Linked DNA regions of Homo sapiens. The protein of the gene in region 1 purifies or fractionates together with the protein of each later gene. This does not show direct contact. Each region holds a gene or a part of one and is shown in the gene's direction. Other genes may lie near its edges. The genes, in order: XAGE3, LYZL1 and METAP1D.

The links.
Region 2: the proteins of XAGE3 (region 1) and LYZL1 purify together in Homo sapiens (co-immunoprecipitation; one large-scale study listed by IntAct). This does not show direct contact.
Region 3: the proteins of XAGE3 (region 1) and METAP1D purify together in Homo sapiens (affinity purification with mass spectrometry; 2 studies listed by BioGRID and IntAct, with this or other methods). This does not show direct contact.

The regions. Positions count from the first base shown.
Region 1 is NC_000023.11:52,862,014-52,865,224, reverse strand, and holds the end of XAGE3 (X antigen family member 3), read left to right. Parts: intron 1-324; coding exon 325-450; intron 451-2,584; coding exon 2,585-2,607; 3' UTR 2,608-2,697; downstream 2,698-3,211.
Region 2 is NC_000010.11:29,287,672-29,292,009, forward strand, and holds the start of LYZL1 (lysozyme-like protein 1 precursor), read left to right. Parts: upstream 1-1,398; 5' UTR 1,399-1,446; coding exon of another isoform or gene 1,447-1,559; intron 1,560-4,171; coding exon of another isoform or gene 4,172-4,196; coding exon 4,197-4,335; intron 4,336-4,338.
Region 3 is NC_000002.12:172,058,885-172,062,539, forward strand, and holds part of METAP1D (methionine aminopeptidase 1D, mitochondrial isoform 1 precursor), read left to right. Parts: intron 1-2,613; coding exon 2,614-2,771; intron 2,772-3,655. UniProt on the Homo sapiens protein: Removes the N-terminal methionine from nascent proteins. The N-terminal methionine is often cleaved when the second residue in the primary sequence is small and uncharged (Met-Ala-, Cys, Gly, Pro, Ser, Thr, or Val).

The DNA.
Region 1 (3,211 bases):
CTTTCAGAAAATTACATTTAAGTTATTATTAAAATGCTATCCATTGGGCAGTCTTTAGGTTTCCTAGATAGCTGACACTCACTGTTTATAGTACACAATGGTAAAGTATAGGAAATGTAAGTGTGGTCTGATTTTTCCTCAGATTGTCATTTAAGATAAGATTTCATAGTACAGGAAAACAAAGGTGGGACATCTTTGCATCACATTTATTACCACAGTCGCCTGCAGCCTTTTATTTCATAACATTGAGGAAAAGAATATTATCATTTCCTTCTTTATCTTTCTTGTTTGCCTGCTTCAATCGACAACCTTTGTATTTTTTAGTGCCTGACCTGGAAGCTGATCTCCAGGAGCTGTCTCAGTCAAAGACTGGGGGTGAATGTGGAAATGGTCCTGATGACCAGGGGAAGATTCTGCCAAAATCAGAACAATTTAAAATGCCAGAAGGAGGTATGCTATCCATTATTATGTGCTTTCTGTTTTCCACAATATTATACTTTTGATAATAAAAGAGAACATTACTATCCCTTTAAAATCAGAGTTCAAATGCAGACTTTTTTTGAAAGGTTGTTCAGACCCCAATTGCCTGACTGTAAGACTTAAACACTATCAGCTACAGACACAAATTGGGTCAAACCCACATTGAATCATCAAATATGAAAGCATATTCTTACTTCTGATTATACCCAACAACTAACAATTTTCAGATATTTTTCAATTTCTGCTTTTAACAAATACATAATGCATTTGTAATACCACTTTGTGTGAAATATCCTGAGCACCTTAAGCAGATTCTAATAACAGCTCTAACATTATTTGTGAGATTCTGGATGAATTCCATAAATTCTACAACCATCTTTTGCTGTTATTGAAAATAGTAAATGCATATCAGATGTATTAACATCTGTTTCAAAATTGATTTCTGTATCCTCATGTTCTGTTGGATAGAATACAAAGATATGATTTGTTTTTCATAACAATCAGTTTCGCTCCAGTTATAATATCTGAGTTGAGATTTCATGGTTCCTAAGAAAATGAGTGGGCAACTTGCTTCATGAAAGTATCTTTTCCACATATTTTCCAAATTGATGACTGTTAATCAGAAGAGCTTCTGAATTTATAGGAAGCATTCCATATTTATGGAAGAAATTGCCTAAATGGTTTTACTCTATACTGCTGAACCATTCCATTAGACTATTTACATGAAAGATAGTTTTCAATTATTTCCAGGAGCCCATTGAGCAATCCTCAATTGTATTCTTAGGAAGATAGTCTTAAGTGAGTATCTTGTTAAAATAGATAGAAAATTACACGAGAAAGGAAAATATTAATGAAAATTATAAAGAGCAATAGAATAAATCTAAGGGAAAAGGAAAGAGGTCCTTAATAAGAGACAGATATGAGTCATTAGTAAAAGGAAATGTAATCCAAAAGTAATACATTTAAAAGATTGTTCTTTTGAAAAATAGCTATGAATAGAGTAATAGTTTACACACTCTTGAAGAAAATGGAAAAAGCTCAACATGGAATATGAACAAGACCCTAACAGATACTGAATATATGGTATAATCGAAAGTGAATACATTCTTGAACTCTAGTATTTTCGAAGTATGAATGAAATGATTGATATGCTAGGAACACATACATTAGTTAATTTATTCCAGTAATACCTGAACATCTAAGCATCACAAAGAGTGTGGGAAAACTTCTGAAAGTTCCCACTTATCCCTCAAAAACACTTAACTTTTAGAAACAATTATTTGGCTTTTCCAGATGTCTTACTGTCCTTTTCTATTTTCCTCTCCCTCCATTTCTTTTTTTGCCCGACTATTCATGATATATGCCTCTTTCTCATTTTGATGTCAAAAATAATAGTGATAGATTAAACCAAATGTGACCATGTAATTTATTTTACCAATGGGAATACTTTCAAGTGTAAAAAGAGGGACTCTTCATATTGACATCAGGATGATAGGTGAAAATCTTGGACAAATGGTTACCGTACCTTAAAGACCACAGAAGGATGAACTAGCCCCAAGCAATATTTTTGGACTTCTGTGCAAAGAGAAAAAACAAATGCAGTACTGACCTTTCAATTCACTGCACTTTTGCAGTCCCTAATGTGACATAAATTGTTTCCCAGGAGCTTGTTGAACATCCAGACTATTATTTCAAGGCAAAACATTGCATTACATGATACATTGTTTGTAAATTCCTTTTGTTTCTTAGGTTTGTTGTGTGTTGGTCATATTTTTATTAAAACAATACACAATGTTTGCTTTTCACTTTGAGCCACCTTTTAATAGGTTCACTTGATTTAAAGTGCTCTGAAGTTAGACAGTTTTTGGTTTCCTTGAACTACAGAAGGCAGGATGTTTTAAAAATGTTGCTAATGTATATACTTGGAAGCCTATCTTCAAAGTCTCTACAGAGGTCTAACTGAATGTTAGCCATCAGGTTACTCTTAGGCTTCTGGTTTAATCCACGGTATAAAACCAAAACTTTGGTGTCCTTTGCCTACCTTTAATGTCATCTGAATACAGTTCTGCTACTAATGTTCCCTCCTGTTATATTTCTATTATAGGTGACAGGCAACCACAGGTTTAAATGAAGACAAGCTGAAACAACACAAAACTGTTTTTATCTAAGATATTTGACTTAAAAATATCGAAATAAACTTTTGCAGCTTTCTCCAAAGAAGTCTTGCACATTTTTTGTTCATTTTATTCCCAAATATTTGGTACTATTGAAAATGGTGGCCAGGTGTGGTGGCTCAAGCCTGTAATCCCAGCACTTTGGGATGCGGAGACAGGAGGATTTCTTGAGCTCAGGAAACTGACACCAGCTTGGGCAACATAGTGAGACCCCCTCACTGCAAAATAAATGAATGACTGCATGAATGCATGAATGTATGCATGTATATATGTAGCCTTAGTCCCAGCTACTCCTGAGGCTATGTTGAGAGGATCCCTTGAACTCAGGAGGTCGAGGATGTAGGTAGTTATGTTCAGGCCACTGCAACTCCAGCCTGGGTGACAGAGTGAGACTCTGTTTAAAAAAAGAAAAGGAAAAGTATCATTTTTGAAATTTTCTATTCTGATTACACTGGTACACACACTTGTGATATTATGAAATATATAAATATATATTTGGTCCTCTACCCTGTATACTGGCATACAACTCTTAATATTTTTAGAATCTCCACAAAGTG
Region 2 (4,338 bases), on another chromosome or scaffold:
TCCTGCACATATTTTGTTAGGTTTAAATTTAAGTACTTCATTTGCATTTGTGTACTATTGTAAATGGATTTTTTTTTATTTCAAACTCTTATTTTCTATTCCTAGTATATAAGATTGTAAATGGCTTTTGTATATTTACGTCATATCTGAAAACTTGCTAAGCAAGCATTTTTGAAAAAGAAAAAGACAATCCGTCTCTATTTTCTCACTGGTAAGATCCCTATTTCAAAGCATTTTGAAAAAGATGTTTGAGGGAAAAACCTATACATTTTCTCATATTATAGACTGTTCACAAGAAGTCCACTAATGGCTTCTAAAGATAAAAAAGACCCTCAAGCAGCTTGAAATAACGAAAGTTGAAATTGAAACTCTGCTGAAAAATTATGTTTCATCTCTAATATTGAGAAATATTGAAACATTTGATAACACAGTGTGCTATCTTCCTGATACAAGCCCATGTGAAAGGCAATTTGGCAAATATCTAGCAAAATTACAAAATTATACCCTTTGATCCAGCAAGATATTCTTGTAAAGTTACAAATGACATATGTACAAAATTACTGGTTGTAATATGTTTACAATAGAAGAATAAAATAAGTGTGCATCAATATGAAATTGGCTAAGTATGCTATGTTGTATCTGTATAATGCAATACTATATGAACTTCAAAATAGATTTCAACAAAACCTTTGCATTATTGGCAGATGGAATTTAAGAAAATATAACGATTAGTTAGGTGCAGCCAACAATAAACTTCTACTTAGATCTACATATTCTAATGAGAATTCATTTCAAATGTGTCACTAAATCTGAACATTGAAATAAATAGACCTTGAAAACAGCCCTTTAGTTATTGATTCACAAAGTGTTAAGCCAAATTTTTCAAAAATAATAAAATCATGTTATTACAAAAATATTTTATTAATAATAATTTGACTATAGCAAATGTGCTGTTAATAAATTTTTAATGTTAATTTCACCTCTATGTCATTAATTTTCAAATTTTAGTTTTATGTATGTTGATAATTTATGTAGCATATTAGTACTGAGGTACAGAAGTATGATTTATAACTCAATGTACATCTAAAGAGGATACATGCTTAACTTTCTTTATTAATGGAATTTGTGATAAAGTTTGCAGACGCCTCAGAGAAGAGCTCTCACTTGGACAGGAGGCCCTGGCCAAGTTGTGTAATGAGGAGGGTTGTTGAGGGGAAAAGACAAAAAACAAGAGGTATTAAGCCCCAGAAGACAGTTATCACCTGCCTCAGAACACAAGCATGCAGGATGATACAGCTTTTAGTGCCAAGAAGTAGAATTCTAGCATCTCTAGGTGGTGAGAAACAAAGGATTAAGAATTTTTCTTTCTCTAACACTCTAAAGAAATGTTCTTGAGCTAGGAAAGGATTACTCGCGCCTCGTTAGAATCAGACATGGCTTCAGGGGATGCAGGACGCTCCCCTGAGCTGCCTGTCACCGACTAAGTGGAGCAGTGTTTCTTCCGCAGACTCAACTGAGAAGTCAGCCTCTGGGGCAGGCACCAGGAATCTGCCTTTTCAGTAAGACCTAAATTACTCTTATGAGAACCAGCAATGGCAGGTTCTTGAAGGATGTAGAACATGATGCTTGGGGTTATCATTGCTGCGGGTTTTCTTTGGACTTGTTTGAGATCAGTAAAATTCTAAGGCAGGGGATGGAAACCAACTCTATTTGTAAGCTCTGTATCTTTTTTTCTTTTTTCTTTTCTTTTTTTTTTTTTTTTTTAGACAGGGTCTCTCACTCTGCTGCCCAGGCTGGAGTGCAGTGTCACAATCATGGCTCACTATGGCCTCAAACTCCCAGCCTCAAGTGATCCTCCCACCTCAGCCTCCCCAGTAGCTGGGACCACAGGCACACACCACCATGCCTGGCTAATTTTTGTATATTTTGTAGAGGCAGGGTCTACCTTTGCTGCCCAGGCTAGTCTCAAACTCCTGGCTTCAAGCAATCTGCTCACCTCAGCCTCCCAAAGTGCTTGGATTACAGGTATCACCCACCATGCCTGGCCTTAGCTCTGCATCTTAAACCTCGTTTGTCTGTCCCTCACAGCTTAACACAGTGCTGTACACAGCGGACTGGCATGCTCTCTCTGAAAAGGGCCAGATAATAATATGTTAGGCTTTGTGGTCTATACGGCCTCAAACACAATTACTGAACTCTGCCACTGTAGTTGGAAATCAGCCACCAATGATATATTACCAAATGGGTGTAGCTATGTTTCAATAAAACTTTACATACAAAAGCGGGCCTGGTTTGCCCACGCTTGCTATTCACGTTTGTAATGTACATGCCCCTCATGCAATGCAGTTCCTTACCTTATTGCTTAGTCACCTTAAAGCCCTGCTTGTTACTTGGTGCGGTGGCCTTGCTGATGACTACTTATCCCTGTTTTGGGCCTAGCCTTTCAATGCAGGAATCCAGCCCCAGGGAGAGAAACTAATGACTGGAGAAGTTTCTAGGCAAGTGCAGAAAATGACACGGGATGAACATATGTAAGAACATCAAGTTCAGGATCCCGAGTAGTTGTCAGAAATTTCACTTCACCCCATCCCAGCAAGGCTGTTGTATTTGGGGAAGACATTATTTCAAGAGGGGAAGAGATTGTGGAAAATCAGTAGGCAGCAGGAGACAGCTCTCTTGATCCTACTCCCATTTCAGATGATTCCGCAGGGGTCTCTTTATTGCCCCTCTGCTCCCCCAGGTGCTTTCCTCCTTTCATGAGGCTTTGTCCTCCATCCCTCTTGCTCCCCAGTCAGGTGCCAGACTTTTAGGAGGCCCCCCGGAGCACTGGTGGTGAAGCTTAGCAAAGCAATGCATTTGCAATCTAAGATAAAACACTCATGTTTTGGGCTGGGCATGGTGGCTCACACCTGTTATCCCAGCACTTTGGGAGGCCGAGGTGGGCAGATCACAAGGTCAGGAGTTTGAAATGAGCCTGACCAACAGTGTGAAACCTCATCTATACTAGAAACACAAAAATTAGCCAGGTGTGGTGGTGGGCGCCTGTAATCCCAGCTACTCAGGAGGCTGAGGCAGGAGAATCGCTTGAACCTGGGAGGCAGAGTTTGGAGTGAGCCCAGATGGCGCCACTGCACTCCAGCCTGGACAACAGAGTGAGATTCCATCTCAAAAAATAAATAAATAAATAAAAGCACTGATACTTTGGAAGCAAAGCTCCCACATTTGGAACTGAATCAAGAAAAGAAAATGAAAGAGTAGGTGCTTAATCTTCACTCTTCGATAAACCCCCAAACAATAACCCTTAAAGTTTTCCATACAGGCCCACGTGTCTTTCATCTGTGGCTGAAATGGGCTGTCTGTTTCTACACATCCAGTTGATCCTTGAACAAATGTAGGGGTCACGGGCACCGACGCCTGCTCAGTTGAAAATCTGCATGTAACTTTTGACTCCCCAGAAACTTAACGACTCCATAGCCTACTGCTGACTGGAAGCCTTACTGATAACATAAATAGCCAATAAACACATATTTTTTATGTTCTATGTCTTCTGTACTGGATTCTTACAATAAAGTAAGCTAGAGAAATGAAATGTTATTCAGAAAAGAATAAGGAAGAGAAGATACATTTACTATTTGTTAAGTGGAAGTGGATCATCATAAAGGGCTTCATCCTGGTTGTCTTCACACTGAGCAGGCTGAGGTGGAGGAGGAAGAGGAGGGGTTGGTCTTGCTGTCTCGGGGTGGCAGAGGCAGAAGAAAATTCACGGATAAATGGACCCACGCAGTTCAAACCCATGTTGTTCAAGGGTCAGCAGTATAGGGAATGTTTCACCCCTGTATTCTATTTTTCATTCATAGAATTAAAATAGAAATCCTAAAAATGCCCCCTGTGGTTTTCACCTGGATGTGTATTAAGGAGGGTTAATTTTTTTGCTTGCTTAACCCTGAGAACACAGCATTGACTTGAAAGTTACTGTATGGAAAAGCATTAAGGAAACAGCCTTCAGTTGCCTTCCTTCCCTGGACCGTAGAGTGGCCGGTTTTCCCTGATGGTGGCACTGAATGACCAAAGTGACAGGCAGCATCTAGGCAGGGCTGTGCACAGTCACCACCGCTGGATTTCAAAGTTCCTGAACCAAGATCGTCTGACCTGTTCTCCGGCTCTTTGGCAGGTTCTGTCTCCGGCAGGCTTTGAGGATGAAGGCTGCGGGCATTCTGACCCTCATTGGCTGCCTGGTCACAGGCGCCGAGTCCAAAATCTACACTCGTTGCAAACTGGCAAAAATATTCTCGAGGGCTGGCCTGGACAATTACTGGGGCTTCAGCCTTGGAAACTGTG
Region 3 (3,655 bases), on another chromosome or scaffold:
ATTAGAGATCCAGAGTTTTGAAGCCAGTACTTACCTGCAATTCACGTTTTCATTATGTTTCACAGCTGAAATGTTACTCTAGGCCAGTTCTCAAGCTTCGTGTGCGTCAGGATTACCTGAGGGCTGGTTAAGGCACAGATTGCCCGCCTCCATCACCAGTTTCTATGTTTGTAGGTCGATACGGGGCCCAAGAATTTGCATCTTTTTTCTTTTTCTTTCTTTCTTTCTTTTTTTTTTTTTCTGAGACAGAGTCTTGCTCTGTCACCCAGGCTGGAGTGCAGTGGCGCGATCTTGGCTCACTGCACCCTCTGCCTTCCGGGTTCGAGTAGTTCTCCTGCCTTAGCCTCCCGAGTAGCTGGGATTACAGGCGCGCGCCACCATGCCCGGCTAATTTTTGTATTTTTAGTAGAGACAAGGTGTGGGATTACAGGCGTGACCCACCGCACTCAGCCTTGCATCTTTTTTCTATGTGACATTATACTGCTGGTCTGTGAACCTCATTTTAAGGACTACTGCTCTAGACCAGGATTCAGCAAATGTCTCCTGTAGAGGGCCAAAGAGTACATTTTTTAGGCTCTGTGGAACATGTGTTCACAACTACTCAGCTACCACTGTAGCTCAAAATCCTCCATAGACATTTGTAAGCAAATGAGGGTAGCTATGGTCCAATGAACCTTTTATTTATGGGCACCAAGATTTGAATTTCATGTATTACAAAATATTGGGTTAAAAAGTTTTTTTCAACCATTTATAAATGTAAAAACCATTTTTAGGTTTTGTGCTGTATAAAAACAGTCAGCAGTCCAGATTTGGCCCTTGAGCTGTAGTTTTCTGACCCCTGCCATGTAGTTGTGACCTGTTGGGGACTTCTAAAACTATTGTTCTGGCCAGGCGCGGTGGCTACGCCCGTAATCCCAGCACTTTGGGAGACCAAGGCGGGCAGATTACGAGGTCAGGAGATTGAGACCAGCATGGCCAACATGGTGAAACCCCGTCTCTACTAAAAATACAAAAAAATTAGCCGGGCCTGGTGGTGCGCGCCTGCAGTCCCAGCTACTCTGGAGGCTGAGGCAGGAGAATTGCTTGGACCTGGGAGGCGGAGGTTGCAGTGAGCCAAGATCGCGCCACTGTACTCCAGCCTGGGCGACTGAGTGAGACTCCGTCTCAAAAAAAAGAAACCAAAAAACAAAAAACAAAAAAAAGATTGTTCTAAATATGAAAGTAATAAAATGAATCAAAATGTCTTCCTGGCTGGATGCAGTAGCTCACGCCTGTAACCTCAACACTTTGGGAGGCCGAGGTGGGAGGATCGCTTGAGCCCAGGAGTTTAAAACCAGCCTGGGCCACATAGCAGGACCCCATCTCTACAAAAAATACAAAAATTAGCCAGGCATGGTAGCATGTGCCTGTGGTTCCAGCTACTCAAGAGGCTGAAGTGGGAGGATTCCTTGAGCCTGGGAATCCAAGGCTGCAGTGAACCATGATCGCACCACTGTTGCCTTAGCCTGGGCGACAGAGCAAGACCCTGTCTCAAAAAAAAAAAAAAAAAAAAAGTCTTCCTCTCTACCTCTAGCCCCAACCACAAGCCACAGAAAGAGCCACTGTTTACAAATATCAATTTCCAGAAATTTTATGAGCACGTGCAAGCTTATATAAATGTATAAGCTCCTTTTACATTAATGGGCTTTTTATATGTATTTGTTAAGCATTCACTTTTTTCCTAACAGTGTATTGTGACCTCTTTCCATATCAACACATAGAGATGATGATTTAGCCTATTCTTTTTAATAGCTCCAGAATTTTCTGTAAGTATACCATAATATATTTAATCAGTCCCCTACTGGTATTTCCTATTTGGAAACATTTGAGTTGTTTCCCACTTTCTTCTACCACAAATAATGCTGCCATGAGGGTACATCTTCATTCATCCATCAGTGCATAGTGTCTGCAGGATAAAGTCCTAGGAGATGAACTGCTGAGTCAAAGGATATGTGCATTTAAAATTTTGATAGACATTTCTAAATTCCTGTTGTGAGTACTTCAAACCCTATATTCATTTTCTTTCAGTGTTATACTTACATTTTTGCTATTTAGTCTTTATCTGACTTGAACATTCATCACAATGAATTTCAGTATAATGCCTCACTGCACGTGAACTTAACACAGAGTAGTAATCCTATGGAGGGCAAAAAGTGCAGCTGGCAATTTGTCCGTGATTCTTGAAAGGAAACGGCTTTACAGAGTATAAAGCCATCAAAACAGTGCCCTGAATCTAGGGTCGTCTTGGACATTGCCACATAAGGTATTACAGCAGAAATTGTTCTTTTTACAGACCTGGTGCTTAGCAGATGTTTCTATATGTTTGTTTCCCGTTAGAGTAGAGTTTTCCATTGTCACGCATTTATGTAAACATAGTATTAGCTAATAAATACGCTGTGTTACTATTGTACTAGAATTCAGAATACCACTGTTTTCATTTCTATTTGGGGCTTTTCCTTTTTCAGTCAATAAGGTATTAGAATAATGATTTAATAGACAACACCACAACATCTTAAAGTGGAGGACTGTGTTAGGTTGTTTTTTTACTTAAAATATGTCTGTTTCTGCTCACAGGTTCTCATAGAATTTTCTCTTCACCACTCAATCATATCTACTTACACAAGCAGTCAAGCAGTCAACAAAGAAGAAATTTCTTTTTTCGGAGACAAAGAGATATTTCACACAGTATAGTTTTGCCGGCTGCAGTTTCTTCAGCTCATCCGGTTCCTAAGGTACTGTATTGCCTATTATCTCCTGCTTTTTCCAGCCAAGATAAAAGTTGACTGCAGAAGTGATCAAATATTTTTGCACCTTTGATTTCTGAGCCATTTGGGTTTTAATTTTCAAACTAGGTTTGTGATCTAAAACTGTGATTTGAGAAGTTTTAATATCCTGCAATTCTATAGCATTAATTTTTTAAAACAAAGCTCTAAGCTTTCAATTGCTTAGAGTATTTAGAATTAAAATTTTTAACATGAAATTTTCTATATTAAATTTCTAACATGAAGATAAAACTATACGTATGTAGTTTTCTAACTGTTTTAGAGAAAAAAAATTGACTATAAAATTGTGATGATTCAAAAGAGATTACTTAAAACTAACATACTAGATTTTTTTAAGCCTGTTCTTACATTTTCCTTGTTATTGATGCTGGTGTCTTTGAATTGTCTTTTAGACTAAATTAAATAAAATATGTCTCAGAGCAGTCTTGGCTTTTTTTTTTCAGAGATTGCAATTCTGTGGAAAGGCAATCTATCCATTTTTCAAAATGCAATATAAAGGGAGTGTGCGAGTGAGCCCTTTAGGAAGAAGGAGAGTAGCTAAAGAAATATAGATTGGTCACAAAAATCATCTGCTTTCTCCCTTTTATGAACTTTGTTTACAGCGAGCCCATATTTAGTATGTTATACTTCTGAAGGTGAGTGGCCCACTTTTATGGCAAAGGCCAGTGACACAGAAGGGCCACCAGGATGTATCCCCTGGCCTGGCCATCACAGTGAGAGTGAGAATTTGGTATTAGTTACAAAACTGACACTTTTTTCCTTAGAAGAAAAGAAAAAGAAATCTCTGGTGAGGTGAATTGTATTGCTTTAGCCATTTCAGTCAATTTCAGCAT